Regions from separate parts of the Homo sapiens genome. Here region 1 is linked to region 2. The links come from fine-mapping of genetic effects on gene expression. A gene starts in region 2. The other region holds a variant in brackets. All regions are shown on one strand. Distances are from middle to middle.

The links.
Region 1: its variant is fine-mapped to the expression of BAG2 in aorta (GTEx, PIP 0.99).

Annotation. Positions count from the first base shown.
Region 1 is chr6:57,255,556-57,271,298 of GRCh38, forward strand. LINC03001 (long intergenic non-protein coding RNA 3001) reads right to left here and starts at 7,791. Exons shown (of 3, transcript NR_109774.1): 1 at 7,748-7,791; 2 at 6,891-7,112; 3 at 4,969-6,162. It also overlaps a transcript of PRIM2 not described here. The variant G/A (reference allele first, on the strand shown) is at 6,545.
Region 2 is chr6:57,163,383-57,179,125 of GRCh38, forward strand. BAG2 (BAG cochaperone 2) reads left to right here and starts at 8,944. Exons shown (of 3, transcript NM_004282.4): 1 at 8,944-9,428. The coding sequence starts at 9,316. It overlaps ZNF451 (zinc finger protein 451), which reads left to right. Exons shown (of 15, transcript NM_001031623.3): 15 at 5,041-6,923. The coding sequence ends at 5,087. It overlaps ZNF451-AS1 (ZNF451 regulatory antisense RNA 1), which reads right to left and starts at 8,831. Exons shown (of 4, transcript NR_110742.1): 1 at 8,692-8,831; 2 at 7,623-7,716. RefSeq lists silencers at 8,957-9,036, 9,087-9,356 and an enhancer at 9,091-9,848.

The DNA of each region.
Region 1 (15,743 bases), 92 kb after region 2:
ATTTCCAATGATCAATGTTAGGTCATTGCCACAACCTGCCTTCTCCATTTTTACACTGGTTGGGGAGGGAGTGATAAAGTTGATAAGAATGTAAACACAAATAACCACAATATACAGCAATGTCCCATTTAAATCATAAGCATAATACAGAAATTCGTGAACTTGTAAAGGCAGGAAAGAGAACATCTAGTTAGAATGATCATAAAAAAACTTCAAGGCTATTATGGCAGATACAAATATGAATAAGACACTACTAGACTTTTTTAAGCCCTTAAGTATAGGAATGGCATAATTTATATTCATTTCACTGATAGCACCAAGCGCTTTTCAAAAGAGAATTAATGAATTATGTCTCCTCTAGTGTGATTCTTTATCTATTACACAGTGCAGTGTGAAATGCCCTAAGGGGGCTTAAATGCTGAGTAAACAAATTTTTAAAAGCAATTTAGACACGCACACACACACACATACACACACACACACACACACACACATTAGATGTACAAGCATAGAAAAGTCTTGGAAGGATAAATACTGTCTTGCTTTATCCATCAGCATACTGATTACAGTTGTGATGAGGTAAGTACCCACACCTTTTGTAATGTAAAATTGTGCAGCAAAACAGCAAAAATAAAATATTACTTGGGGGAAAAAGACAATTAACTTGTTTTTGGCCAAAGGTGATAGAAACAATAATACTTGCATTTCCTGAGGCCCTACCATATGTCAGGCATATGCCACCTTATTTACCCCTCACCATCACCCTACAGGGCTATATTATGTATTATCTTCATTTTGCAATTGGGAATAGTTATTGTATTTCTTCCATTATAAGATCAAATTTAAAAATACTTTAAATCATTGGAATGTGTATGCATGTTATCATTTATGGTGTCTTAGACTTGATAAAATAACGTAAGTCACATTATTATAAATCATTAGATATAATATTCTAACTTATGGTTTAATTGGCTCTAAATTCTGTGCTTTTCCTCCATTGGATTGCGTTATCTTTTCTAACAAAAGTAGACTTTTGCTCCTTCTCCAAGTTTTCTTTCTCTCTTTCTCTTTCTCTTACACACACACACACACACACACACACACACACATGCCATGCAGGCACACACACACAGTTTTTCCTTTCTCTTTCTCTCACTTTCACACACACACACACACACACACACACACATACACTCTTACATCTTAGTCCAAAGTAAAAATATCCTGCTTATCAGATGCTCTGCCTTATTTTCAAGGCTTATGCTTATTTTGAGTGTAGCCATGGTGAACTTCATCTATCTAACTGATGTGCTAGTCTAGTCTCCTACCTACTGCTAAATTACTCAATTAACCTATTTTGTTCAATTCCATTTTAGCCACAACCCTTTAGTTTCAGTTGCCTTGACATTGGGGAAAAAAACCCTAATCTTTCTTATCTATTTGGTTAATTGGCCAAATTAATTCTGACAGATATCACATAGGTATTTTTGTTTTTCTTGGGGCAGCTAGCCACCCTGGGCCAGTGCTTCTCAATCTGGGCACACAAGAAACAACTGGTGTATCTTCTTGAAGCAAGAGTTCTCCTTGAAGATTTACTTGAAGAGAAAGTTGAAGCAGGACACTGAAAAATGTAGATGAAAATCTTTGAAAGAAGTATTTTTTATCTTAAAAGAAAAAAGAAAATATTATGAAACAGAATAAAATATCTGTAGGCATTTTTTTTTTTTTTTTGTGAGATGGAGTCTTGCTCTTGTTGCCCAGGCTGGAGTGCAATGGCGCAATCTCGGCTCACCGCAACCTCCACCTGCTGGATTCAAGCGATTCTCCTGCCTCAGGCTCCTGAATAGCTGGGATTACAGGCACCCACCACCAAGCCCGGCTAATTTTGTATTTTTAGTAGAGACAGGATTTCTCCATGTTGGTCAGGCTGGTCTTGAACTCCCGACCTCAGGTGATCTGCCCGCCTCGGCCTCCCAAAGTGCTGGGATTACAGGCGTGAGCCATCGCGCCCAGACTGTAGGCATTTTTAAGGCACAACTTTAATGGAATTTTGAACTGGTGGTAAACTACTCATGGTAACCTGTGGTTGAAACCATAGGCTTTGGGGCAAGACTGAAACCTAGCTCCTCCCTTTTCTAACTGTACCCTGGGGCAAGTTGCTTAGCCTTTTTGTGTCTCCATTTCTCATTTGTAAAATGGGAATAATATCATCTGCCTCATAGAGTTATCATGAGAATTAAGTGACCAGTATATGTTAAATGTTGGAACAGTGGGTCGTTCATAGTGAATTCTCCCTAATGTTAGCTATTTTCATTTTCATTTATATTTCTAGATATCCCAAGGGTTATTATTTTGTCCTCCTCTTTTGTTAAGTTGTCTCAGAGCAAAAGTTTGAGCAGCCCTGCCTTAGTCCTTCCCCAGGATTCTCTCCAGTATGCTGCACTTGGTTCTCATCGGCTGGTCTTTTGTAATGTTTCAGGAATGCACTGTTTTCCTTTTTCTCTTCTCTGTCTCTTTTTTTTCCAGCACCATTAAAAACAAAGAGTAGCTGTTTTAGGAATTTGGGAAGTGAAGAAACAAGACATTCGACTGTGAGTTTCACCCATGTTTAAAACGAAATAACCTAACAATCGGGAGTGGCGTGCTACCGTTAAGATTTTGGAGGTAGAGACGTGAAGATTTTCAGTCGCAACTCCCTTTAGAACCATGGCTTGAACCCGTAAAGTATGAGGGCTGCCCATAAAACTTTCTCTTCTAAGATGTGGGATATGTGTAGTCTCATCTAGTTATGGCTCATCTGGGAATGGATTTTCTGACGCAAATGAGGTTTAAAAAAAAAAGGCATAGTGTCTCTTTATTTGGTTAACACTATTTCTGCACTTTGTTTTTCCTTGTCAGCTTTAAAAGGAAGAGAACAAAAGCCAACCACCCTGCCAAAACTTGGCAGTAGAATTTCAGTGAGTGAAAATTCTCCACCTACAGTAATGTTTGAAGTGGTTGCACAGTGAGGGCCCCCCAGCCCCCACCCCAACCCACCCACCCCTCCACTGCAGGCCATTCTTGACCTGTTAGGACACCATCTTATGCAAAGTTAAGAAAGCCCAAGAGCCTAGAACCCACAGAAAAAGGCCAGTGTAAGACTAAGGGCATCTATCCCCTGTTCTTTTTTCCCTGTTCCATCTGATATTATCTTTGGCTCAATAGTCCTAGAACTCAGAAGGCTGATACTCCAATGTACCCTAGAATTGCTAGACTCAACTCTACCATCTCCTCCGCTCCCAGAACCTGGACTCTTGGAGGGCAGACAGCAGGATAGGAGCAGCCTCAAGGACGGGAAAGCAATGGAGACTGACCTATCCTTTGCTATTTCCCTTTGCCACCAATATCTTCTAGTTATAGGATTTTTGCACCTAGAAATAAAATATACAAATATTGACCATAACTTACAGTAATTCAGTGCTTCTAAGTTCCCATGTACCATGGCAAACACATGGATATATTATAGCAACATCATAAAACAGACATGATTATTTCTATACCAAGGATAAATCTCAGGTTTAGAAGAAAGGTTGGAAAAATTCTTGAAGGTCACAAGCCAGAAGTACATGGCACTGAAACAGATCTGACTCTTGAGTCCAAGCCTATTGTATTGACTTGCTATCAATGCATAACAAACCGCATCACACAAAACCAGTAGTATCTTTGAGTCATCTTGGGGGTTGGCTGATTTAAGCTGGGCTAGGCTAGGTGGCTGGGGTAGCTCTGCTCTATATGCCTCTCATCTTCCTCCTGGGACCAGTAGGTTGCCCTGGACATGTGTAAGAAGAAAATTGGAAATATGCAAGGTCTCTTAAGGCCTAGGCTTGGAACTGGCACACTAATTTCTGCCTCATCCTGTTCGTCAAGGCAAGTTACAAGGCTGAGACTAATGTCAAAGAGCAAAGAGACATACCTCATTTTTTTTTAAGAGATAAGGGTATGCCTGTTGATTAGGTTGTACTCAAATGCCTGGGCTCAAGGGATCATCCTGCATTGCTGGGACTACAAATGTGCACCACTGTGCCCAACTGAGATATACTTCACCTTTGTGGGGTGTAGTGGATGCTGAGGTGCACTTCCTGGTCCCTTTCCAGAACCAAGGCACTTACTTTCTCAGCTGCTAGGAATATTGCTTGCTGATGATGGCTCACCAAGTCCACTGACTCCCATCCTTTCACCTCCACCCTCGCCCTGGAGTCCCCATCCCACTGCCCACCAGGAATTGTCCTCAGCTGAAGGGCACTGCTTTGCCCAAGGGTGCCCCTATGGTCAACCCACATTCAAAGACTAGTCAGATGTGAGTATGAAGTCTGACCTCTTGCCTCAATTCAAGACATCTCTGAAGAGCTATCCTAGCATCAGAGCTTCCCATAGGATTGGGTGAGGCCTGGGTTGCAATTAAATTAGTCCCATTTTTTTCTGTGTCAATCTTGCTTCCCCTATTCCCTTAAAATGGCTGTTTCCAAGAGCATTCCTCAATAATTACTCTATGAAATCTAACCTTCAACATGAGAGGGACTCCAAAGCCAATGGTGAAGGGCAAAGATATAGTATAGGAAAGAATCAAAACCAATAACGCAATCTACCACATCTTTGCATTTAAGAAGTAGATTAAACTGCATCCCAGGTCCAAAAACAAAAGCATATAGTGGAGCAGACAGAATCTCTGTCTGACATGTCTTAATGTATATCTAAACCATTGATATTGGACCTTGAAATATATTTGACTTGGAAAAGGCATGTGGTCCTGAAGAGTTGTGGGCAAATGGAAACTTTGTAAATTGAATTAAATTCCAAATGCATGGTGGGGGTTTGGTATTCTAAAGTGAAAAATGTGGTGAATTATTTTATGAATAACCATTTTAATAACATTGATTTTTCTATGATGAGTTTTACATATCAGCAATTTATTTCATTTTTATGAACCCATTCTATTTTTAAAATAATTCTGTGTGTGTGAAATTATAGCATGATGTCATACGTTTGTTTTTTGGTCTCCAATCCTTGGTGGATTTCCTTTGCATAAATTTTAAGTTTACATGAACCTGAAAAGATTCCAGGGACTCTGGGCAAAGCCATGGGTGCATGGTTGTTGGAAATGGGTACAATGGATATAAGTAGCCGGGCAGACAAACATCCCAGGAGAAGAAATTTTGGCCAGGTCATGTTCCTTTGTCCAGTAAAAAAAGCAGGAGGAGAGAAAATAGATAATTTACTGTACTCAGGGATAGGGATTGATAAAATAGCTACAGCAGAAGGAAAAGTCAGCAGGAAAATCAAGAATTCTAACAGAATATTGCGGATATGACTGTTCATGATCTCCAGGGGTATGAAGGGCAAGCCAGGCTAAAAAGTGGACCAGAACACTGGTGGTTGAGGGATTGGAGGCCCCAGTGAGAGGAGGGAATAGGCACACAGCAGTGACAGATTCAATGGAAGTTTTTCCATATTTATGATATGCAAGCCATGTGTATTTTCATTTCCCTCATGCTTTTCTGTGAAGGTTGAGGCTCTCCCATGTGATAGTTTCCTCTATCAGTCAGGATTCTAAATATTCTTGATATTTTAAAGAAGAGATTTAATACCAGGAGATGACAAAGGTAAGAAGCCTAAAGTGGGAGAGTAAGGCATCCTTGAGATTATCAAGAGCAGGAAGCTGCTACCACTGCCTAAAGCTTAAGGGACAAAAGGAGCCAGGCCACCAGGGAGAAGTTGGAACCACAGAAGCTCTTGGAGCAAGAGCTGGGTCCATAGAAGAGATGGCCGCTGCCAGAGACAATACTTGAAGCTGAGAGAAGTGGGGAAAAATACCCAGCTTCTCCCTTTCTGCTCTCTCTTCAGGGCCATCCAATGGCTGAACTGACCCAGAAACCAGAGGGCAAAGGAACAAGGAAAAAGTAATTCTCTGTGATACGGAACAGGGTAGAGCGGGGACAGGGGATAAATCTAAGAGCAAAACAGGACAAGACTAGCACATGGCCTCAACTTCTCTGCTCTCCATGGCAATGTCTTCCTCCTCTTCTGTTTCCAGGAGTCTCTAATTCCTGCCACTTATTGCCCCAGGCTCCCTTGATAGCTGGTTTCCAGGTGGGGGCACAGCCAATGGGTGGCAGCAGCAGGAGACTGGGAGATAAAAGGAAAGGTTGGGTTATTTTTCCCCATTCCCTCCCTGCTTTGGAGCCACCTCTCTGGAAGGCTCCCTCCACCATTATAGATCCTGCTGGTGGTCTGTCTTCCGTGGCTCCAGGTCTCACCAGCTCTCACCAGGTCTCTCTCTAGGAGTGGTTTCCTTCTATTGCTGGTCTCTGGGTGTCTCAACATCCCTTGCTAATTCCCTTAATTCTGCCCACAGCTATGTCAGCAGTATCTTTGTTAAAGTCCCTTCATTTGAACAATTTGGCTTGAGTTCTGTTTTCTGCCAGAACCCTGGCTAGTATCCTGACCTACTGTGTTCTTTTCCAAGCTCCTTTCAAGTGTCATATTTTCCCCACTGTTGCCCAGATCA[G/A]CAGTGTGGTATAGTAGAAAGAATACTGGACTTACTGGCAGACAGACATGGTTTTATTTCTGATTCAGTCACTTACAGAGTTACTGGCTGGGAAAGTTATTTAACCTCCTGAGCTTCCGTTTTCTTGCTGGTAAAGTGGAAAGGGGATAATGATGAATTTCAGTTGGATATATTAGAAATCCGTGCCTGACCCATGTGTTCCAGGCCTCATCTGCCAGTTGTCTTTTTTTTTACATACCGATTATTTATGGCGTAAATCCCCTTCCTACTCGACTGAAAGAAATGAACCCCCTTCAAAGTATTTCCAGTTATTTCTAGAAGTTTCCAAAGAAGTTCCCTTGCTCACCAGTCGTTCTTTCACAGTTGCCATCGTCTTCTGCCCTGTTATTTTGCTTCTGCCCCAGCTCCCACATGTCCAGCTTCTGCTTGCAGGGCCACTTGCTGAGGCTTTGCCGAGGCTGAAACTTTTCCAGGGTCACTGTCCATCATGAGAACACAGCACATGCCAAGGGTGTTGCCTCTTAGTGTTCCCAAAGAGTCTGGTCCTTGGGAAGCCTCCATTTGGCCTCTGTGGTGCAGAGAGGAGAATGTCCTTCCCTGGCTCAGCCCCAAATAGCTGGGCTTGTGCCTAGAGCCTCTGAGAGTCTCTTTGACTATTTCCTCAGCTAATTTCACATGTAAACAAAACAACTCACAGAGGTTCTGCAACCTGCTTCCACCGTCTTTCTAGAAGGAGGTCAGAAAGGGAACAGATGCTTTGCCCTTTTCCCCTCTCCCCTCCACAGCTCTCCCAACCCCCAAACCCATCTTCCTCTTCTATTTGCTAAACTAAACATTTTATACTTATCAACCACTGTGGGATGGAAGTGGGATGGTCAAGGAGGGAGGTGAGGTCTAGATGACTTCTGTATATGAGCCAGAGTCCAATCCATTTATATATGAATGACTCCTAGTACAATATCTGACACAAAGTGGATTCTCAATGGTTGATGAATACTATTATCACGTAAATAGGAAACCACATTTCCTACCATTTAGATAGTATAAGTTCTTCAAAGTTCAATTTATGTGTCATTTCTTACCAGAAACCTGGCCCTAATCCCAGTAGGATGAGGTTACTCTTTGCCTCTGTATTTGCTTCTTAGGGCTATGGTTATAATATACCAAGAATTGGCTTAAAACAACAAAAATTTATTCTCTCACAGTTCTGGAGGCTGGAAGTTTGAAATCAAGACATTGATAGAGCCATCCTCTCTCTGAAGGCTGTAGGGAGAGTCCTTCCTTGCCCCTTCCCAGCTTCTGGTGGCTCTTGGCAATCCTTGGTGTTCCCTGGCTTAGAGCCGCTTCACTCAAATCTCTGCTTCTGATGTTGCACAGTCATCTTCTCCCTGTGTGTCTTTGTTTCCACGTGGCATTCTCTTCCCTTATAAGGCCATCAGTCACAGTGGATTGAGGCCCACTCTAGTAACCTCATTTAACTTGATTATATCTGCAAAGGCCCTGTTTCCAAATGAAGTCACATTCTGGGATCCTGAGAGTTGGGATTTCAAAATACCTTCTTGGGGGGTGCAATTCCACCCACAACACCCTGCAATAAGATTTTAAAATTGAATAGCAGCAATCTTATTTCTCTTTTGACATCTATCACATCTAGCTTATTTTATAGTAATCTATCTTTTATCTCCCCCTACAACACTGAACAGCCCAAGGACAAAACCTGTTTCTGATTCACTTTTGTGTCCCTGACAATACCTACATGTCCCATAATAGGTTTGATAGGTACTAAGTGACCGGGCTGAGGCTTGCACCCTCCCCTCCTGACTCATGATCAATCCTTCAGACTAGAGCGTGCTGCCACCAGCCTGGTACATGTATTTGTGAGTTCCTTGGGTTTCAACTCCTTGGTTGATTTATTTTTTGAAAACACTATATATCAGGAAGATGGGTTTGGCTAGCTGAAATAGCTGGTTATAGCTTGCCTTGGGTGGTTAAATATTTATGTCTTCTGAGAGTGAACAATGGGCTTTACTCTACCAGGGAAATAATCTTGTTTGTCCCCATTTATTGGCTCTTTTTTCCTCTTTTACATTTTCAGCATCCTAATGATGTCCTTAGTGATAGTTGCTATGGAAGTATTTTAGTGTTTTCTGCAGTGTTGGGTGGTGCAGTACCTGAAGCCCTCTTTAGTGTGTATTTATAATGACACCAAGCCATGAATTTCATTTTAGTGGTAGCTTTCTTGCTTAATAACTGGTTGTCGTCGGGGGAGTGGTCTGCATTTATTTTGGCCTCCTGATTTATCGCACTGATTTTTCTTCTCCTTTTCATTGTTCCTGGAGTGCTCGTCATCACTTCAAATACTCAACCCATTATTTCACAGAATATAATGACAGAGCCAGCCCCATCATTTTATCATTGAATACACTGGTAAACAGTTGCAACCCCTCTAATACCAATGTGATGAGGGGTGATTTAAACTTGTAAAAGTCAAACGCTTTTTTTTTTTTTTTTTTTTTGCGATGGAGCCTCACTCTGTTGCCAGGCTGGAGTGCAGTGGCACAGTCTTGGCTCACGGCAACCTCCCCCTCCTGAGTTCAAGCGATTCTCCTGCCTCAGCCTCCTGAGTAGCTGGGACTACAGGTGCGCCCCACCAAGCCCAGTTAATTTTTGCATTTTTTAGTAGATATACGGTTTCACCATCTTGGCCAAGATGGTTCCAATCTCTTGACCTTGTGATCTGCCCACTGGCAGATCTTGTTTGTCCCCATTTATTGGCTGGGATTAAAGGCGTCAAAAACTTTTAAGAATGTATAGTTTGGAGACTGAGACTCAGTAATGGGTGGAGGAGAGAAAACTGGGATATCTAGAGAATTGGATTGTGATGTCTTCCGTAAAATAGTAATAGTAGTACATGTTCTACCTACTTGATAGGATTGTTATGAGGGTCATGTGATTAATGTATGTGAAAGCAATTTGTAAGCTGTACAGTGCTATAAAATGTTTATATATGTTATCATTAATAACAACTAGATTGTTAATAGTCCTGATTGCTTTTGACCTGGATGTCTATGGAGAAGCAGCTTAATCTCTGGTGAAGACATGACTTGACCTTTTTACTGAACCATGTGGGCAAATGATCAGGCCATTATGCAGTATTTTCAAGGCCATCAGGTTGTCTGTGTTAGCCTCTTTCATTCGACTCTTACCTTTTATTTGGGGAGGAGAAGGGACAGTATGACTTTAATTATTAAGCTGAAGAAGTGGAGAAATCTTGATTTCTTGAATAGCTTTTTCAAGTCAGCTCTTTAATATAAAGTCTCTCTGGTGCATCTGTTGCTAGCTTGCCACGTTGGTATGTGCCATTTTAATTTTGTTCCTCCAAAGGTTTGGGTTATTTTTCCATACACTTTGGTTTACGGTAGACGCTCAACCACTTACTAGAATAGAACACACTTAGGCATGTAGACTTTGACAATTCTAGGGAAAAGTTGTGAATGCATTTAGTGATTTGATTTGTGTGTTTTAGTTTAAGTAATCTATCAATTTATCCTATAGATAGCCCAGAAATTGATGTCACTGCAATTAAACAGAATTTTTTTATAAAGAATTCTGTGCCTGACAACTCTAGACATATTTATTATGCAGCTTCTCTTAAAGGATTTTCAATTTGCTCATTTGGAGCAAATTTTGTGTGTTAAATGCAGTTGGTTCCTAGACACTGACTCATTTTCCAAATCTGAGTACACTTTTTCCTCAATTGACTTTCCCCTGCCAGTATGTCATCCAACTATTCTTTAATGTACTGTCAAAATATGGTCACCTCATCATTAACAGGAAATGGGCTTCTTGCCCAGTCTTATGAAAGTAGAATAAAATCAGACAGTTTGATTTTTAAACTATAAGAAAAGGAGAATGAAAAAACAGCAAAACTTAACTAATTTCCAAGCTCAGGGCTATTTATAAAGAGCTTGAACAAATAAGACACCCAGAAACGAAAGGAAAACTGCAATTTGCTTGGCTTTGTGTAGAATACAGAAGAATTTCCATTTTACTCTAAATATAAAGTAGCTGCAATGTGAGTCAACATAAATAAAACAAAGAAACCAAGTCTTTATGGAAGATGACAGCAGTTTCATGTGGGCAGCTTCATGTGTTTAAGCATCTCAATGTGAAAACTTGGCCATTTGCTCAAGATTGTTTCTCTGTATTTAGATTTTTGGTGCAAATATCATCTCTGTCTCTAGGAAACAAACCCAGACGGCCTACAGAGTCAAGAATGAAGAATTCATTTTACTGAAATGTTAATGTCAACTCTAAAAATATCAGAGTTTTCAATTTTACCTAATCAAATAATCAGCTCGACAATTTTTTTGCAACCACAGTTGCTTATAGGGCTGACCAAAGTGACGATTTGTTTAAGACCAAGTTCAAGGTTAGTTAAACATATAACATATAGCGCAGATTTCATTTAACCATGTGGATAATTCAGCCAAATATGTTTTTCATGAATTGCTGTGAAAAAGAGTAATTTGCCGCATTTGAATTATCTGATTACCTGTCCTGATCTTCTACTTCACTTTGAGTGTATATGTAGACTTTATTAGAATAACATTTTGTAGTGTAAAAATAGTCTATGTCGCCACAGCTTCTCTCTACTTGCTAGTTCAAAGCTTTCTCTTTAATTTTTGATCAGTGCCAATTTGGAACCGATCTCTTTTAGCTCAGTTTCCTCATTTGTGGAGTGGGTATCTTAACGTCCAAAATAATAAATGATTAAAAATAGTTAAAAAAAGTTAAAAATAAATGATTAGTGGAATGATGAAAAGTACTTCACACAGAATCCAGCATATAGTGAATGCTCAATGAATTTTAACTATTTTGACTTTTACTGTTAAAGATGTGACGTGGGAAGTCATTAAACCTTTTGTAGCTTAGTTCTTTAGGTATGAAAGACAAATGTCTTGATATAAGTCTAAAAATGTTCTTAAAATGCATGCAGTGCCTCCACATGCAAAGTGAAGCACAGAATTTAAGTAATTACCTTCATTAATTAATCAATGCATTGCTTTACCTAATAGGTTGATACATGTTTTAGAGCAAAGCTTGATGCACAAAGGTCCACTTTGCTTGGATATTAGTTTTATTGTCATTTTGCCATTTTTTTGGTATTCATTATCTACTGTGATGGGACAAGAATTTGGGTGAAAGTAGTTTACTTGGGAGGTGATCCCAGGAGGCATGATCAGGGAGTGGGCAAGTAAGACTGGCAAAAGAGGAACACCATTAAAGGATACATTGAGAAGCGGGTTACTGTCTTGGGCAAGTGAGCTCAATCCCAGTGGCATCTCTTTGAGAGGCTGCATAAAACCTTTGAGCAACCTCATCCATTTAGTCCAGCACTGTACTAATATTATCACTTTCTACGAGCAATACCACATGAAAAAATTTGGGGAGCATTGCTATAAAGAATGGTTGAGAGTGCTGAAGAGAAGCCAGGAAAATAAAAAGCAGAATAAATAAGAATGGTTGACATGCACGGTGGCTCACACTTGTAATTCCAGCACTTTGGGAGGCGGAGGCGGGAGGATCACTTGAGGCCAGGAGTTAAAGACCAGCCTGGGCAACATTGCGACACCCCATCTCTACAAAAAAATTTTAAAATTAGCTAGGCATGGTGGCACATGCTGGTCTCGAAAACCTGGCCTCAAATGACCCTCCCGCCTTGGCCTCCCAAAGTGCTGGGATTACAAGGGTGAGCCACCGTCCTGGCCTGGTTACATTTAACTATGTTGCAGAGAAGATCGTGGATTCATTCAAAATGAAATCATTGTTGCTGGGTTCTTGTAAAAGTAAGGTTGTTGAGCTATGGGCATTGAGCATATGAGAACAGAAACATAATCCTTTTAATCTACTCAGCATTTTGCAGGCTTCAGAGGAATAATGGCTGTTGTTTCTGGCTTTGCAGTTCAAGTGAGATGGATTTAGAAGAGCTCCAAGCACATTCCTAAAGTATTAGGTGGTTGGAAGGTTCTATGAGTTACGTAGTTGTTACTTCAGTCTCCAGCGGAAGGGAGGAGACATGTCTTCCTAGTCATATTCCTCCTTGGTCTCAAAAAACCACATTTTGTTCCCTTCAAGTCAGGAATGTAGCCAGAATGCCCACCAGGTGGTGCTCCAATTACTTTACTGTATAACATTTTGTGACCTCCTGTAGGATATAAGAATATTAAATGTTAGAGTTAAAGGCAGAAAATATTCTGTAACTTGAGCCTCAAGATGTAAAGACTTCATATATTGAGAAGACTAATATGGCTTTTAAAATATCACATGACATCAAAATGTCTATGCATAAAAGGTGAAAAAAAATGCTATCTCAGAGCCAAGGTTAACATTCTTGGTAGAAAAATAGATTACAATCAATATTTTTTAATTGAGTTTTAAAAAGAATTCTGATGCACTAGGTTCTGAGGCATTACAAGGATATATATGTATATATATATGGCAATTTCCCCCCACATTTACTTATTTATTTTTAATTTTATTATTATTATACTTTAAGTTTTAGGGTACATGTGCACAACGTGCAGGTTTGTTACATATGTATACATGTGTCATGTTGGTGTGCTGCACCCATTAACTCGTCATTTAGCATTAGGTATATCTCCTAATGCTATCCCTCCCCCCTCCCCCCACCCCACAACAGTCCCCAGAGTGTGATGTTCCCCTTGCTGTGTCCATGTGTTCTCATTGTTCAATTCCCACCTATGAGTGAGAACATGCGGTGTTTGGTTTTTTGTCCTTGCGATAGTTTACTGAGAATGATAATTTCCAATTTCATCCATGTCCCTACAAAGGACATGAACTCATCATTTTTTATGGCTGCATAGTATTCCATGGTGTATATGTGCCACATTTTCTTAATCCAGTCTATCATTGTTGGACATTTGGGTTGGTTCCAAGTCTTCGCTATTGTGAATAGTGCTGCAATAAACAAATGTGTGCATGTGTCTTTATAGCAGCATGATTTACAGTCCTTTGGGTATATACCCAGTAATGGGATGGCTGGGTCAAATGGTATTTCTAGTTCTAGATCCCTGAGGAATCGCCACACTGACTTCCACAATGGTTGAACTAGTTTACAGTCCCACCAACAGTGTAAAAGTGTTCCTATTTCTCCACATCCTCTCCAGCACCTGTTGTCTCCTGACTTTTTAATGATCGCCATTCTAACTGGTGTGAGATGGTATCTCATTGTGGTTTTGATTTGCATTTCTCTGATGGCCAGTGATGATGAGCATTTTTTCATGTGTTTTTTGGCTGCATAAATGTCTTCTTTTGAGAAGTGTCTGTTCATGTCCTTTGCCCACTTTTTGATGGGATTGTTTTTTTCTTGTAAATTTGTTTGAGTTCATTGTAGATTCTGGATATTAGCCCTTGGTCAGATGAGTAGATTGCAAAAATTTTCTCCCATTCTGTAGGTTGCCTGTTCACTCTGATGGTAGTTTCTTTTGCTGTGCAGAAGCTCTTTAGTTTAATTAGATCCCATTTGTCAATTTTGGCTTTTGTTGCCATTGCTTTTGGTGTTTTAGACATGAGGTCCTTGCCCATGCCTCTGTCCTGAATGGTATTGCCTAGGTTTTCTTCTAGGGTTTTTACGGTTTTAGGTCTAACATGTAAGTCTTTAATCCATCTTGAATTAATTTTTGTATAAGATGTAAGGAAGGGATCCAGTTTCAACTTTCTACATATGGCTAGCCAGTTTTCCCACCACCATTTATTAAACAGGGAATCCTTTCCCCATTGCTTGTTTTTGTGAGGTTTGTCAAAGATCAGATGGTTGTAGATATGCGGCATTATTTCTGAGGGCTCTGTTCTGTTCCATTGGTCTATATATCTGTTTTGGTACCAGTACCATGCTGTTTTGGTTACTGTAGCCTTGTAGTATAGTTTGAAGTCAGGTAGCATGATGCCTCCAGCTTTGTTCTTTTGGCTTAGGATTGACTTGGCGATGCGGGCTCTTTTTTGGTTCCATATGAACTTTAAAGTAGTTTTTTCCAATTCTGTGAAGAAAGTCATTGGTAGCTTGATGGGGATGGCATTGAATCTATAAATTATCTTGGGCAGTATGGCCATTTTCATGATATTGATTCTTCCTACCCATGAGCATGGAATGTTCTTCCATTTCTTTGTATCCTCTTTTATTTCATTGAGCAGTGGTTTGTAGTTCTCCTTGAAGAGGTCCTTCATGTCCCTTGTAAGTTGGATTCCTAGGTAATTTATTCTCTTTGAAGCAATTGTGAATGGGAGTTCACTGATGATTTGGCTGTTTGTCTGTTATTGGTGTATAAGAATGCTTGTGATTTTTGTACATTGATTTTGTATCCTGAGACTTTGCTGAAGTTGCTTATCAGCTTAAGGAGATTTTGGGCTGAGACGATGGGGTTTTCTAGATATACAATCATGTCATCTGCAAACAGGAACGATTTGACTTCCTCCTTTCCTAATTGAATGCCCTTTATTTCCTTCTCCTGCCTGATTGCCCCGGCCAGAACTTCCAACACTATGTTGAATAGGAGTGGTGAGAGAGGGCATCCCTGTCTTGTGCCTGTTTTCAAAGGGAATGCTTCCAGTTTTTCTCCATTCAGTATGATATTGGCTGTGGGTTTGTCATAGATAGCTCTTATTATTTTGAGATATGTCCCATCAATACCTAATTTATTGAGAGTTTTTAGCATGAAGCGTTGTTGAATTTTATCAAAGGCCTTTTCTGCATCTATTGAGATAATCATGTGGTTTTTGTCTTTGGTTCTGTTTATATGCTGGATTACACTTACTGATTTGTGTATGTTGAACCAGCCTTGCATCCCAGGGATGAAGCCCACTTGATCATGGTGGATAAGCTTTTTGATGTGCCGCTGGATTTGGTTTGCCAGTATTTTATTGAGGATTTTTGCATCGATGTTCATCAGGGATATCGGTCTAAAATTCTCTTTTTTTGTTTTGTCTCTGACAGGCTTTGGTATCAGGATGATGCTGGCCTCATAAAATGAGTTAGGGAGGATTCCCTCTTTCTCTATTCATTGGACTAGTTTCAGAAGGAATGGTACCAGCTCCTCTTTGTACCTCAGGTAGAATTCGGCTGTGAATCCATCTGGTCCTGGACTTTTTTTGGTTGGTAAGCGATTGATTATTGCCTCAA
Region 2 (15,743 bases):
GCAGCACCTAGCACAGTGTTTGGCACAAAATGGTTGCTTGTTAAATGAATAAACTTTTTTTTTTTTTTTTTTTTTTTTTTTTTTTTGAGACGGAGTCTCGCTCTGTCGCCCAGGCTGGAGTGCAGTGGCGCGATCTCAGCTCACTGCAAGCTCCGCCTCCCGGGTTCACGCCATTCTCCTGCCTCAGCCTCCCGAGTAGCTGGGACTACAGGCGCCCGCCACCACGCCCGGCTAATTTTTTGTATTTTTAGTAGAGACGGGGTTTCACCGTGTTAGCCAGGATGGTCTCGATCTCCTGACCTCGTGATCCGCCTGCCTCGGCCTCCCAAAGTGCTGGGATTACAGGCGTGAGCCACCGCGCCCGGCCTAAATGAATAAACTTTTAACAAACTTAAAACATGTTAGAGCCACCAGGACCCATTTCCCTATAACTGGATAAGGGAAATTAAGATAGAGGCTATTTTGTTATAGAATATTGGGTTATTTTGTTGACCCTGAACCACAGAAGCAAAATAATGTTCTAGTCTAGACCTGATAACAAAACTCAAAAAAAATTTTAAGCAACCTCTTAAGTGTCTTTTTATTCCTTCCTTTCCCAGTACAACTCTGTAAATGCCTGAGAAATAGTGGCAGAAGACAGGATAAATCTGCTTATGGCTTTTTGCCTTAGGGTAATTCCCTCCTTCCATGATTTGTGTTATTCTTTGTTGTTCCTCATAGACCAATATCAAACTCTGACCACGCAGGCCAGTCATAACAATCCCATATAATCTAGTTCCTTGTACTTGACAGAGGAAACAGATGCCGCATAATGTGGTGGTGAAAAGTACAGTCTTTGGATTCATACTGCCTAAGTTAAAACTCTGCTGCTTACAAGTTGTGTAATATTGGACAAGTCACTTAACTTCACTGTGCTTCAGCTTCCTCCTCTTAAATATGGGAATATTAGTATACCTACCTTACTAGAATAACATGACATATGATAAATAGTATATATTGGTTGCTGCTAATGTTACTGGGATTATGATGATCATTATGCCATTATTTACTTATATGTTCATCTAAGGTCTACTCTAGAGGTATGTCTGTTAACTAGAGGTATTCTGACTCAAATTGCTGGAAGAGACAGAGGACAGCATTATATAGATAATTTTCTTTGCAAAACCATCTTTCTGTAAATGTTAGCAATATGCCTTATTCTGAGAATTCCTTCAATTAATAGCAGTCAAAACTGCTCTTAATCTTAACAACTTGTGAGAGTCAGACTATTCTCTTCATTTTATATGAAAACTGAGGCTTCTAAACATTAAGTAATTTGGCCTTACATCCACAGTTTTAAAATGATTGGGAACCATTTCTATATGTCTTCTACCTCCTACTACTGGTTGTTTTTGTTGTTTGTTTGCCATAATTACTGCTCTCAAAGTAAATGAAATTAAGGCAGAAAGAATGGTAAGGGGAACACAGAGCTAGCCACAGAATAGAAAAACAAAGACAGATTTTTCACAATTGCTCTTTATTTTTTCATATGGCTTCAAGTTACTGTCTGATGTCCTTTAATTTCAATCTGAGAGATTCTCTTTAGCATTTCTTGTAGGGCAGGTCTACTAGTAAATTCTGTAGCTTTTGTTTATCTGAGAATTTCTTTAGGAATAGTTTTGTCAGATATAGAATTCTTGATCGACATTCTTATTTTCTGGTCTCCATGGTTTTTTATAAGAAATCAGCTAGTAATTTTATTAAGGCTCTCTTGTATGTGATGAGTTGTTTCTCTCTTGTTGTTTTCATTGTCTTTGGCTTTTGACAGTTTGACTATAACACGTCTCAGTGTGGGTCTCTTTAGAGTTCATTGAGCTTCTTGGATATGTAGATTCACCTCTTTCATCAAATTTGGGAGTTTTTCAACCATTATTTCTTCAAACATTCTTTCTGATCCTATTGCACTTCCCCTCTTGAGACTCCTGTAATGCATATGTTAGTTCACTTGATGATGTCCCACAGGTCCCTTGGACTCTGTTTACTTTTCTTCATTTTTCTTTCTGTTCCTCATACTGGATGATTGATTGATTGATTGATTGATTTAGACTGAACTCAAACCAAGACACACACTGGATAATTTAAATTATACTATCTTTAAATTTGCTGACTCTTCTTTGTACTCAAATTCATTAAGCCCCTCTAAAGATTTTTCATTTTAGTTATTGTACTTTTCAGTTCCTGAGTTTCTATTTGATGGGCTTTTAATAATTCTGCCTCATTATTGGTACTCTTAATTTTGTTCATACATTTTTTTCCTGGTTTCCTTTAGTTCTTTGAACATACATAAGACAGTTGGCTTAAAGTCTTTGTCACCCATGCTATATCATGTAGCCTGTTGCTCCTAGTCTACAAACCTGTATAGCATGTTATTGTGCTGAATACTGTAGACATTGTAACATAATGGTAAATATTTTTGTATCTAAACATAGAGACATAAAAATACATAAAAAATGGTATACCTGTATAAGGTACTTACCCTGAATGGAGCTTGCAGGATGGGGAAGTTGCTCTGGGTGAGTCAGTGAGTGAGTGGTGAGTGAATGTGAAGGTCTAGGATGTTACTGTACTCTACTGTAGATTTTATAAACACTGTACGATTAGGCTATACTACTTTTTTTTTTTTTGAGACGGAGTCTTCCTCTGTTGCCCAGGCTGGAGTGCAGTTGTGTGATCTTGGCTCACTGCAACCTCCGCCTCCCAGGTTTAAGCGATTCTCCCACCTCAGCCTCCCAAGTAGCTGGGATTATAGGCATGTGCCACCACGCCCGCCTAATTTTTGTATTTTTGGTAGAGATGGGGTTTCTCCATGTTGGCCAGGCTGGTCTCGAACTACTGACCTCAGGTGATCCGCCCACCTTGGCCTTCCAAAGTACTCGGATTAAGACATGAGCCACTGTGCCTGGCCTATACTACATTTAAAAAAATTTTTTTTTCTTCAGTAATCAGTTCACCTTAGCTTACTGTAACTTGTATAAACTTTAAAATTTTTAACTTTTTGTCTCTATTGTAATAACACTTAAAACACAAACACTTTGTACAGCTATAGAGAAATATTTTCTTTATATCCTTATTCTATAAGCTTTTCCCTACTTTTAAATTGTTTTATTACTTTTAAAACTTTTTTGTTAAAAACTAAGACACAAACACATATATATTAGCTTAGACCTGCACAGAGTCAGGATCATCAATATCACTTTTATAAGTAGCAGTACCCTCTAAAATAATAATAAAAAGTATAGTAAATACATAAACCAGTACCAGAGTTTATTATAATTTTCAAGTGTTATGTACTGTACATAATTGTATGTGCTGTACTTTTATACAACTGGCAACATAGTGTATTTGTTTACAGCAGCATCACCACAAACACATGAGTAATATGTTGCACTGCAACATGAAGATGGCTATGACATAATTAGGCAATAGGAATTTTTCAGGTCTATTATAATCTTATGGGACCACTGTTGTATATGTGATCCACTGTTTACCAAAAGTTGATACGCAGCACATGACCATACTTGCTTTTTGTTTTTTATAGTCTTTCAGCTGGCAAGTTTAATCCCTATAAGCTCACTGGAGGTATGATATCTTTGTATAGATGTTGCTGTACTTAATGATGGTTTGATTTATGATTTTTTTACTTTATAAGGATGTGAAAGCAATATGCATTTAGTATAAACCATACTTCAAATTTTGAATTTTAGTTCAAAGATTTTTATAACTTTAATTGTAAAACAGACGTTGTGATTTCGTATATATATACACACACACACACACACACACATATATACATATAACCTACTATCATTTGTTAAAAAGACCTTTCCCTGTCATTCTGCAGTGCTACCTTTGTTATAAATCCAGTGTCCATATATGCATGGGTCTGTTTCTGAGCTGTCTATGCTGTTCCTTTGGTCTATTTATTCTTGCACTAGTAGCACATTATTAGTTACTGTAACTTTATAATAAGTGTTCATATCTTAGACAAGTCTTGTCCCCTTGTTTTTCTTTGGTAAGAGTGTCTTGGCTTTTCTTTGCATTTCCTCATCCCTTTTAATTCATCTTAAGGGCAACTAACTGATCCTAGAGTGTAGCTTTAACTTGATACACAGTTCATGCTAGTTTATTGTACTTTAAATTAGACAACATAACACTAGTGCCCCCAATCAGAGGAACATGCGGTTGCATCTTAGGGAGATCACTGGTGCCTGTAGCCAAGTAGCCTCTGAGAGACTGTGGACCAGATGGGATGAGATAAATCTGGTGTGAGAAGCTAGTGAAGGCCAAGAAATTGACACCAAATTTCACCCTCCTGGATTTTAGCATCATTCCCAAGGAGGAGATGGAACTCAACTATTGTGAACCCAATAACGTCTGTCTTGTTCACTATTACATTGCTGTTCCTGGTATATAATGGGCATTCAATAAATATTTGTCAAATGAGTTTACATACATCTGCATACAGCATATATTATATGCTTCTCAGATGACATTTATGTGGCTATGAGTTTCACTACCTTAGATGCTAGGATGCTTTAAGCTAATTTTTCCCCAGCTTTATTGAGGTATAATTAAAAATTAAACTAAATTTTTAATGGCCTGTGACATTTTGTCATTTCATGGAGTTGCCTTTCTGTTTAAAGTCTTATATGTATCACCTCAAGTCTTTTAGCAAATAAGTGATACAGATTTTTTTTTAAATGTTGAAACAAATGATTACCTGTCAGTGATTTTAAAAGTTTGTTGACTTTCTACATTCCTAAGTGGAATTAACTTGCAAGTTCTAAGTTCATATATAAAATTCAATTCAAGATCATGTCTAGATTTTCATATTTCAAAATACTCAATTTTTTAGTAGAGAAACTGCCAAGTTATCCTGTGTTTTTCCATTTTGATTTTACTTTCCTTCTTGAAAAGAATACAGTCGATGAAACTTAAATAAATACAGCACATGTTGAGTTTTCTGCCCTAAGTGTTAAAATTCTATGTTTTTTAATGCAGATGTGGAATTAGAAGAAGCTATTAGAAGAAGTCTTGAGGAAATGTAATTAAAGATATTACCACACAACATCAAGTGGCCTTGAAGAGACTGAGATAACGAATTCTTGAGTTTGTTTTCTAAAGGAGACCAGAAATCCACTATTACAAATGTATTTGAAAACATGTTTTTGCTTTCATATGTTCAAAATCTGATCTTTGTTTTGTATTTTTGTGCTAATGTGCAAACATGTACAGAAGAAATAGAATACATGTTCATGCAAATATAAATTATGTATTCTAATATAGGTGTAACAGTTTCCCAGTTAACTTTGAATTTATATATTTAGATTTAAAGGATTAAAAAAAAGGAAAGCTCTTGACAGTTGTTTCCCAAATAGCATTAGTTCTTTAATTTTATTTGTACTGTACAAATGATGCTAGTTTATTTTTTTAGCAGTGAAAATGAATATAAAAAAGGTGACATAGGTCAAGTTTTCCATAAATTCTACTTCTCATGTGGCACTATTATATAATACCTTTGAGATCTTTGTTTATGTTTATTAGAAGAGGGTAATGGAAACTGATCATGGAAACATTTAAAATTTTATCAGCAATGTTCTTTGTGGGTGCCATGCATATGTAAATTATTGCTTTAATTAGAGCAGCACATTGCTAAAATAAAAAATACACCTTAATTTTTAAGAAATAATTTAAATGAAACAATTTCCATTCCTTTTACCTGCTTAGACTTTTATGTGACTTGTATGGTCTCCTGGTTAAAGGGAATGGTGTCAGAATATTTGCATAAAATTATTTTTCATAACAGTCCTTTTTTATATATTGGTGTAAACATAATATTCTTCAAGAAATAATGTTGAAAGCCTACTCAGGAATAATCTTCCTTAACTCTTTAAATTTTTATTTCATGTGAAGTGTTTTCAGTTTAGTTATTCACTGAATTGTCAGTTTCCTTCATTTGGTATTACATATTTAATTCTTAAATATTGAGGCCCCATTGTGAGTAATAAAAAATACGACATAAGTAGAAGACTAAGAAGGGCTTGTCATATTATCTTTGTGTATATGCTTCATGTTATTTAACCAGAAATGTCTTATCTCTAAAAATTTTTAGTAGTAATTATTTACCAAACTTAAAAACATTTCTATAAATATAAAGCTTTTCTTTATATTTAAGACAAAATATAAAGGCTAGAATTTGGTTCCTTCTCTGTAACACTAAATATTTTAGTGTGAAATTGAATTTTTTTATTACTATAGTCTTTTCAATCTATAATTTGTGTTTTTAATTTCTTGATATGTCACTTCTGTTCCTCCCTGCTTGCATTTTTTAAAAACTAGACATTGTGGCTTGAGAATTTATCAATCATCTTTCCGAAATGACCACATTGTGCTTTTAGTTTGTATGTTTAAGTGGTCAAGCAAGGCTCTAGGAGGTAGTCACTGAGCTGGACCTTAAACACATCTGCAGGAGCTCACAAAATGGGAGCAAAAGAGGCATTCCAGAAAGAAGAGTAGTTAAGCAGATGTGGGGGCAGGGCAAGAGGAGACAGCACCTTGTTGCCAGAGATTCTACACAAAGGTGTGATGGACACTGATGCTCTATTAAGAAGCTTTTGTGGTGTGTGTGGTAGAGAATAATTAAGGCTTCTGATAAGACAGGAAAGGGATATTTCATCATGACTGTTAAGAAAAGGTAACTGGGTTGTTTAATGTTTTAATTGATAATTGTCACTGATCGTATTTCTACTTGTTAAATAATTAAAAATCATCTTAAAATTCATACTTTGACTTTAATTTAGACACAAGGAGATGTAATCGCTGTGTAACATCAGAGAAAGCTATATGGATTATCGTCAGAAGTAAATGTTTCTAACATTGACAAAGATGCTTATCTTTTCATTACATCATTCACTCATTAATTCATTCAATCACAAAATATTGAGTACCCACCATGTGCCAGCAACTGTTCTAAGCACTTGGAATATACCAGTAAGCAAAACAAAGCCCTTACCCCTCTGTGGAGCACATATTGGTGGAGAGGAGGGGATTGTACAATGTTAGTAAGCAAGGCAATAAAACTGCATATCTGATGGTGATACGTGTAACGACGGAAAATAAAGAAGGGAAGGGAATAAATAGTGCAGGGACAGGGAGTTGGGGGGAGGCTTGCTATTTTTAATAGGGTTGTCAGAAAAGATCTCACTGATAGGTAAACTTGAGCAAAGACCTGAAGAAGGTGAGGGAATGAGGATGAAAATACATATCGGGAAGAGAGTTCCAGGTGGAGGAGGTTAAGGTCCAGACAGGAGCTTAGTATATTCAAGGAAAAGCAAGAAGACTAGTATGGCTGACAGGATGAGCTAGGAGAGTAATAGGAAATGAACTTACTGAGGTTTTTCTAATGACCTGGGCTTTTACTTTGAGGTAAGGAGCCAGTGAAGGTTTCTGAGAATAAATGGTATGATCTGCCTTATTTAGGATTGCTGTAGTTGCTGCACTGAGATAACATGTACATGAGAGGCAAGAGTAGAAGCAGGGAGACCAGAGAGGAAGGTATTGTAGTATTCCAGGTGCAAACTCACCAGGTAGCTTGAACCAGAATGGTGGCGGTAGAATTGGGAAGAATCTGGATATATTCTGAAGGCAAAATTGATGGGGTTTACTAATGGTGTGGATCTAGGATAAGAGAGAAAAAGAGTTCAGGATGATTCTAAAGTCACTTGATAGACTTTCAAACCACTCACAAAATGTGTTTTGTTTTCGTTTGTGTCATGATAAAGTTATTTTTAATAAGGTCAAATAATCCCCTACCCCAAGAGTTAATTAGGATTTAAAATGAGTTCAGAGGGAATTGGGATCCAGCCTTAAGGGCTTCAACTCTGTTCAAGTATTTAAATGGCTTTGATCTCTGATTAAAGGTGGTGGCTCAGCTTTAAACTATTATTATCTATCATTTTCTGTGCCCTGTACATTGTCATCCTTGCAATGAGAGGCATAGAGCTATCAGGAGAGGGGACTAAAGCCTAACTTTTTAAGTAGACTAATCTTTGTATCCTCAGCTCTATTCCGTCTTTTACCGACAGCTGGTGCCTGACCTAGAGGCCTACTGCATCTTTTTTGTTAACAGGATTTTTAAAAGTTGAGGACTTTTTAATGCCAATTATTTCACTCAGAATATTTATTTATTTATTTATTTTTTTGAGACAAGGTCTCGCTCTATCGCCCAGGCTGGAGTGCAGTGGCGAGATCTCGGCTCGCTCAACAGGAATAATTTTAATAGCAAAAATTTAAAACCCCTTCATTAAGCCAGGCGTGGTGGTTCACATCTGTAATCCCAGCACTTTGGGAGGCTGAGGTGGGAGGACCGCTTGAACCCGGGAGGTCGAGGCTGCAGTAAGTCGTGATCGCGCCACTACACTCCAACGTGGGCGACAGTTAGACCCCATCTCAAAAACAAAAGAAAATTAGAATGGTAAAAATGAAGTAAATTCACTTTGCTTCCCACATCTAGCTAGACAGGGAAAGATGGAGTAGCTTTTTCTTTTTTACTTCATAGCTTCAGTGTTGTCCGGGCTTTCATTACTCTCATCTCAGTATAAAGTGGTAACAGGAAGGTCAGGTGAGTGTGGGCTGCCTACGAGCTGTACTTACTGCCTTCTGTTTCACAAAAGGACGTTTTCTCCCCATAATGTCGTTGTTCTTGCTTTGAATTATGGGTGCTGGGAGAAACTAAACGAAGCCGTCACTGAGCAATACACCCACAGCCCGTCGACCGATAGGAACCTTCGCGTGGGGGGAGTTGGTTACTTTTAGGTTGCATGAAGAGGCGGGGCCTCGCGGGGCGGAGCTGGGGGTGGTCTGTGGGTCCGCGCGGGCTTCGGGTAGTTCCTGGGTCCGGGGAGCAGACGATCCGCTAGCCACATTAGGCGCTCGGTCTCTGCGTCCGCCCCTCCCGTGCCTCAGAGACTTGCGCTCCCCAGGCCCGAGCCCCTGTCGGCCCATCCTCGAGCCCGTGTGGCTCGCGAACCTCTAACTCCAGCCGCTGCAGCCCCCTCCCAGGCCCGGCGTCCCCGAGCCCCGCGGGCGCCGCGCCTGCCCTTCTTTGGCTACGCTGCAGCCGCGGTGTCGGCGAGTCCTCCCGGGTTGCCCCCGCGGGCGTCAGAGGGAGGGCGGGCGCCCGCGTGGTGACGGCGACGCCTGCAGCCCAAGGAGCGCTCCACTCGCTGCCGCCGGAGGGGCCGGTGACCTCTTGGCTACCCCGCGTCGGAGGCTTAGATGGCTCAGGCGAAGATCAACGCTAAAGCCAACGAGGGGCGCTTCTGCCGCTCCTCCTCCATGGCTGACCGCTCCAGCCGCCTGCTGGAGAGCCTGGACCAGCTGGAGCTCAGGTGAGCTCCGGGCGGGCGGTCTCGGGCGTTCTGCTCGCCGCGCGGGCGGTTCGCGGGCGGTTAGCGGACGGAGGCCGCGTGTGGCGGGCCGGGGCCTGGGGCACAGTGAGGCTGCGGCAACCGAAGTTGCTTGTTGAGATTTGTTGTGGATGGACGTGGTGTAGTTTTGTTTGTTTCTTGGATTATCTCCCCTAGTCCGAGAGAAAACGCATTCGATTTAAGCTAAACCTGTGAGGGCGTTATCGGTGGCCACACTTTGATTAATTTACCTAGGTGTTAGGGAGCGGAAAAAAATCAGAGGAGATAAAAGTTACAGTGAGATTCCATGCGATTAAGGACTGTGGCAGCTTGGGTCTGCAGAACTTCTAGAACCTTCTGTGTGGCCCCAAACGTTTTAACTTACTCTTCTCGTTATGCATTTTTTAAGGGAGGCAGCAGTTTACAGTGGCCCTCCACGTGAAGTTAAGTTTCCTTGCTTCAGAACAAAAATGAATAAAACAAAACCAACCCAGCAATCCATTGAGAGCAAAGATTAGACAGGAGTGAGGGGTAGGCAGTAAGTTACCGGGTGCTTCGTGCAGCAGAGACGTTGCCGCTTCTGTTTCTCCCCTAACCTCGCGGACGGGATTCAGCGGTTCCGTTCGTCTCTCGGTATTTATTGGGCACCTCCCTACATAGAAGACTAAGTGCTAGTTACTGGCCTGAAAGCATGAAAAGATAGTTTTCCCCTTTTCTTGCTTAAGAATTTATTTGGTAATACAGTAGTAGACTTGTATAGAATTTCTAAACAATTTAATGTTAATAGATTTTTGGAAAGACTTTAACGGTGTATTGAAAAGTTTTATCTACTTCCTGTGAACGTTTGTCTCAAGTTACTGTGTAAATTTTGTGAGCAGGTGTAGTTAAAAGAAAATCTTGTTAGGCACCTGCAATTCCGTGAAACTGTACACAGGAGTTGGTTACATAGTTTTGTCTAGGTTGTGCATGAGCAAAGAAGCATGTGAGCCAAAAAGTTTAGGAAACACTGCATGTGTGTCTTTATCTTCCTACATTAATACACCCAAACATGAAGTATCTGTTTGCTGAGAAAATACTTCAATAACCACGGTATCTCTTAACAAGTGAGGCATTATTATTGTTACTATTGGGAGAAAAGAGCCAGAGAGTGAGAGATTCTCCACTCAAAATAATTTCTTGGATTATTAAGCCCTACACCAGGTTCTGGGGTTCCACTCAGAATGAGGCAAGTGGAAGAGAGAAGTAATGCTTCCTCATGGATTTTCACAATACTGGCAAACCTGACCGTTCCACTCCCAGAAAAAGTAGAGCGAAAGTAGAAATTGGTGGCCTCAGTTACTTGAAGTCCCTCTAACTGGTAATGTTTCTTTTTAGGGAGCCACATAACAAGTAACACACATCTCTCCATGTCTTCAGAACGTTGAGGGCATGTTCTCAACCACTTCATTCTCCTCTCCCTTAGCCAGAAAGAAAAGTTTTCCTAAAGGAATGGGGAGGTTGTTACTCCACTCCGCCTTCCTTCAAGCTGAGTCATTGTCCTCCAACTTGAATTAATGCCTCACATGTGGTAGGTACAAAAGCACTCTGAAGTGCTCCTCTTTAAAAGAAAGCCTCAGGTTTTGAATATTATTATATTCTACTGTTTGATTAATGTAAAATGAATTCTGATTGCACATCAGTGATTAAATTACAACTTGCTTAATTAACATTTGAGCTGAGGAGAAAAGTGATTAATATGTGGCTGTTCATTTCAAGGACTTTTTTTTAGTAATTCTGGACTTTTGTAGGCCTTTTTTCTTCTTTTTAAAAAAGTAATACTAGCTGAAAAGGAAGGATTTCCGAAGGTAAGCAAAAATAGAGAAAAATGCTAATGTAGATCCTATTAAAGTTTTTTTTGAAACCACATGGGCAATGGCACTGAACACTATTAAAAACTAGAATCATGCGTAGAAGATCGATTTTTAAAAGAAAACATGAAACTCATATGTAATTTTGCTCTAATAGTTTGATTTTGTTGACTAATAAAGTAGTGTAACTGTGTAGAATAAAACCTTATAGTTTGTACTTAGAAGTGTGCACTTAATGTTCCCTAACCACACTGATCCTGTCAATTGTGGAAGAAATTTCATACTTTATGACCTGGAGTATGAACTGATCTACATGATGTTTAAAATGTTTGGCAGCAGTTTTACAAACTGTTAAAGGATTTCCATTTATCTCTAATGGAATTTATCAATACAGTAGCCCTTTTTTTTGGACTGCATTTTGTCTTCTGTATTTCTTCCTTCTACAGAGGTGATTCCCTTTTCTCCGTTTTGACGATCAGTTCTAAATGGACTCTGAGTTTTGCATTCTTCAGTGGCTCAAACCATCTTGCTTACTATTGTTACTTTTTAACAATTATTGTAATTTGTAAAAAATACTATGATATTACGATTCTCTCTCTCTGTATATATACAACGTTTTCCTGGCTCATAACTCCCATAACCCTTGTTACAGTCTTATGTTATAGTTCCTGGCTCATAACTCCCATAACCCTTATTACAGTCTTACGTTATAATGTTGGGGTGCTTTAGGCCTCAGGAAAAAGAATCTCTCTCTCTGACCTTCTTTCACCTGCCTTACCTCTAGTCTGATTGTGGGTCAAAAGACTCTCGTTCCAGAGAGGGTCCTGCCCTATGCCCTGGAGGAGGGCATTTAGCACCCAGAGGCCAAGAAGAATCTGAATAGACTGGCCTTGCTGGGTTTCCCCATTCAGTCTGTTAGAGTGAGGGCATACTCTTTTTGTCCAATCACTTTTCTACATGGTTGTCATTCATGCTTATATAAAAGAAGCAAGCCTCCATAAGAACCCAAAAAGGACAGGGTTTGGAGAGCTTCTGGATAGCTGGACATGTGGAGGCTCCTGGAAGGTGGTGTGCCCCTTCCCCCTGTACCTCACCCTACACATCTCTTTATCCATGTCCTTTGTAATACCCTTTATAATAAATCCGTAAATATAAGTAAGTGTTTCCCTGAATTTTGTGAGCTGCTGCAGCAAGTTAAACCCAAAGAGGGGGACATGGGAACCCCAATTTGAAGCCAGTTGGTCAGAAGTTCTGGAGGCCTAGACTTGCAACGGTGGAGGGTGGGGTCTTGGGGACTGAGCTTTCAACTTGTGGGATCTGATACCGTCTCCAGGTGTAGGGAGTGTTGGAACTGAGTTGGGGGATACTTAGCTGCAAATCCCCCACATATTTGGTCACAGCCTTCTGTGTTGTTACAGTGTGAGAGCAGAGGAAAAACACAGTGTGAGAGTTTTTTCTAAAACACAGGCTAATGTTTATTCATTTAATGTACACGGACTATGTGCCAGGCCCCATGTCGTTGTTACTATTATCACCATTCTACAGATAGGGAAATTGAGGCTTAGAAGCTTAAATGACTTGTCCAAAGTCACACAACTAGAGAGTAGTAAACTCCAAATTTGAACCCAGGAAGACTGGCTCTCCAGGCTCTAATACTTTATGCCTGAATTTTCTTAAATATATCACATTTCAAAATATAGAAATGATATATGGATGAATAGATGAGCTTCCTCTAAGAGATAAAAATTCAATCTAAATTGGCCTTTAATTCAGTGGATATTGAACACCCACTATGTGTTAGGTATTGGGTAGCTCCTAGAAAGCTCAAGATGGTAATGAAGATGTTTGGGGGATGGGTTTTGGAGACTGGCAGAGGGGAAAATGATAGGACTGGGAGATTGGCTTTTCATATGTTTCCCAAAACTTATAACACAGTGGCTCCTTCTGCCTTCCTGTCAGCCTTTCACTGTGGCTTAACCTGCACCCAGGTAGTGAAGGGATGGGGTTGGGGGTGATAGGGATCATTCGTCTGGCTTAAAGTTTCATGTTAGGGTGTGCCAGTGTTCTAGGAGTCACAAAACAAGATGGCATCATAGTTAATACTGTGTGACAGCCTGTAATTTAAAAGAACACTTCATATATGTTATTTGAAACTTTAAGAACCCTTCGAGTTAGGTGGAGGGCACATACTCTCTCTCCTAGAAATGAGGGAAGTGAGGTCCAATTAGGATGAAGTGGCTTGCCTGAGGACATGCTACTGAAAAGTGGCTCTTCACACTAAAAACACTAGTCCCTTCTTTTACACCAAAATGTCTTGACAGTAAATGTAATTTAACATTTTGGTGATTAGGAAAACACTTCAGAATTTTACATTGCCTAAAAGTGATCATTATAGCATTCTTTTGATATAGGAGTATGGAATAAGAGACAGAACTATGAGTTTTAAGAACCTGTTTTAGGCCAGGCGTGGTGGCTCACTCCTGTAATCCCAGCACTTTGGGAGGCTGAGGTGGGCAGATCACCTGAGGTCAGGAGTTTGAGACCAGCCTGTCCAACATGGTGAAAACCATCTCTAATAAAAAATTCAAAAGTTAGCCAGACGTGGTGGCGCATGTCTGTAGTCCTAGCCACTCGGGAGGCTGAGGCAGGAGAATCACTTGAACCCTGGAGGTGGAGGTTGCAGTGAGCTGAGATCACACCACTGCACTCCGGCCTGGACGACAGAGTGAGACTCCATCTCAAAAAAAACAAACCTGTTTTAGAAATTATTTCTTTCAAATCATGGTATGAGCATTTGCCATTTTCCCTCCTTTTTATGAAAGCACAAATTTTCATCATTAATAAATAAGCCCACATTCATAATGGTAAGAATATAATAGCTATTAATACTATAAATATATGCCAGTGCCAATTCTAGACACATTATACATATTAACTTGTGTGTGTGTGTAATTTTTTTAGTCAGTGCTATCAGTCACTGTTAAACTCTACCTGCTTTACTTCATTTAGTCACAAGCACTGTTCCCTTATCATCCCTGTTTCATAGGCGACTGACCCATTTGCACAGCTAGTAGTGGCAGTGCTGGCGCAGTTTTCACTGCATACTCTATTAGCTGACATATTAATAGTAGCCACAGTTTGCGCAAAATTGCTGTTGTACTCCTCCTAAGTCTCCCAGCAGTTTGCCGTTTCGATACTGAGACTGCAGAGGTTTGTGAGGTGCCCAAGACCTGGGTACTAGCTGAGGATGCATGCGCTCCGGTTTTGTCTTCCTACTGAGTACTCTGACTAAAATTTCTTTTTGTCAAAGCCTACTTAGTTGTGATTTCATGCAGGGAGTTTTCCAGGAGCACAGCCCAGGCCAGCCTTGATGTGAGGAAAAGTTCTTTCCCAATTTGGACGTGTAGCTGCTTCCGGGATCTGTTAGTAAAAACAGAACTGCCCTTCTCCGCCAGAAGTGTTGCCAGATGAGATATTAAGAAACATGAAGGATAAAGTGAGATGGTCCAACATTTCTCTAACCAGAGTTCCAGACGAAAATAACAGAAGGGGAGACAGGGAATATTCAAAGATACAACAGCCAAGAATTTTCTAGAACTAATGGAAAAATTGTAGACAAAAGACGTGTATATGAGTTTAAGGATAGCAATAGCTGACAAACAGTACAAACGTTACTTAAACTAAGTAGAGATCTAGGTTCAGCTTTTTAAAAGAAAAAATGTAAAATATGAGGTAGACATATTTTAGACTGTAGAGTAAATGGATGTACCAGGGCCAAAAGGAGCATGAATTGCCTTAAGGGAGAGGAAGGGGGAAGCTAAGGAAACAATTCCTGCTGAAGCAATTGGGTTTTGAAAAAGGTGATCCCAGTAGACAAGGGTCAGGGAGAAAGAATGCTACCTGAAGAGGGAATAGGACATGAAAAGCCCATGTTGCCAAATAAACCCTGAGATCTTTACATTTTGAAGAATGACATTTTACCCTTGCATGAAATGAAAAAGGTATACATAAAAATGTATATAAGAAGTTCTATAAATGATGAAATCTGGTTTTCACAGGGATAATGCCCTGGTAATTTCTATTATGTATTAAAAAAAGCCTTGTGGGATGGGGGTGGGGGAGGGTCCCTAAAACACAAACTTTAGCAGTTCCACCTAACTATTTGGTCTCATTTAATGATAAAATATTTTCGTCATATGACAGGCTTATTATATTTTTTCTAGAATGTCTTTTTTATCTATTTTGTTAAGAACATGAACTTACTGCTGTAACTCATAAATGAAACCTTCCTTTTCAGAATAGCATTGTTCTCTCTTATCATCTTACAATTGAATACAAACCGAAAAGGTGTTGAAAAATTAATCTCTTCTTTCAGCATCTTCTCATTTATCAATCACATGATTCACCTGTGTCATTTGTCTAAATATTGGAGTCATGGTTTGTGCTTTTA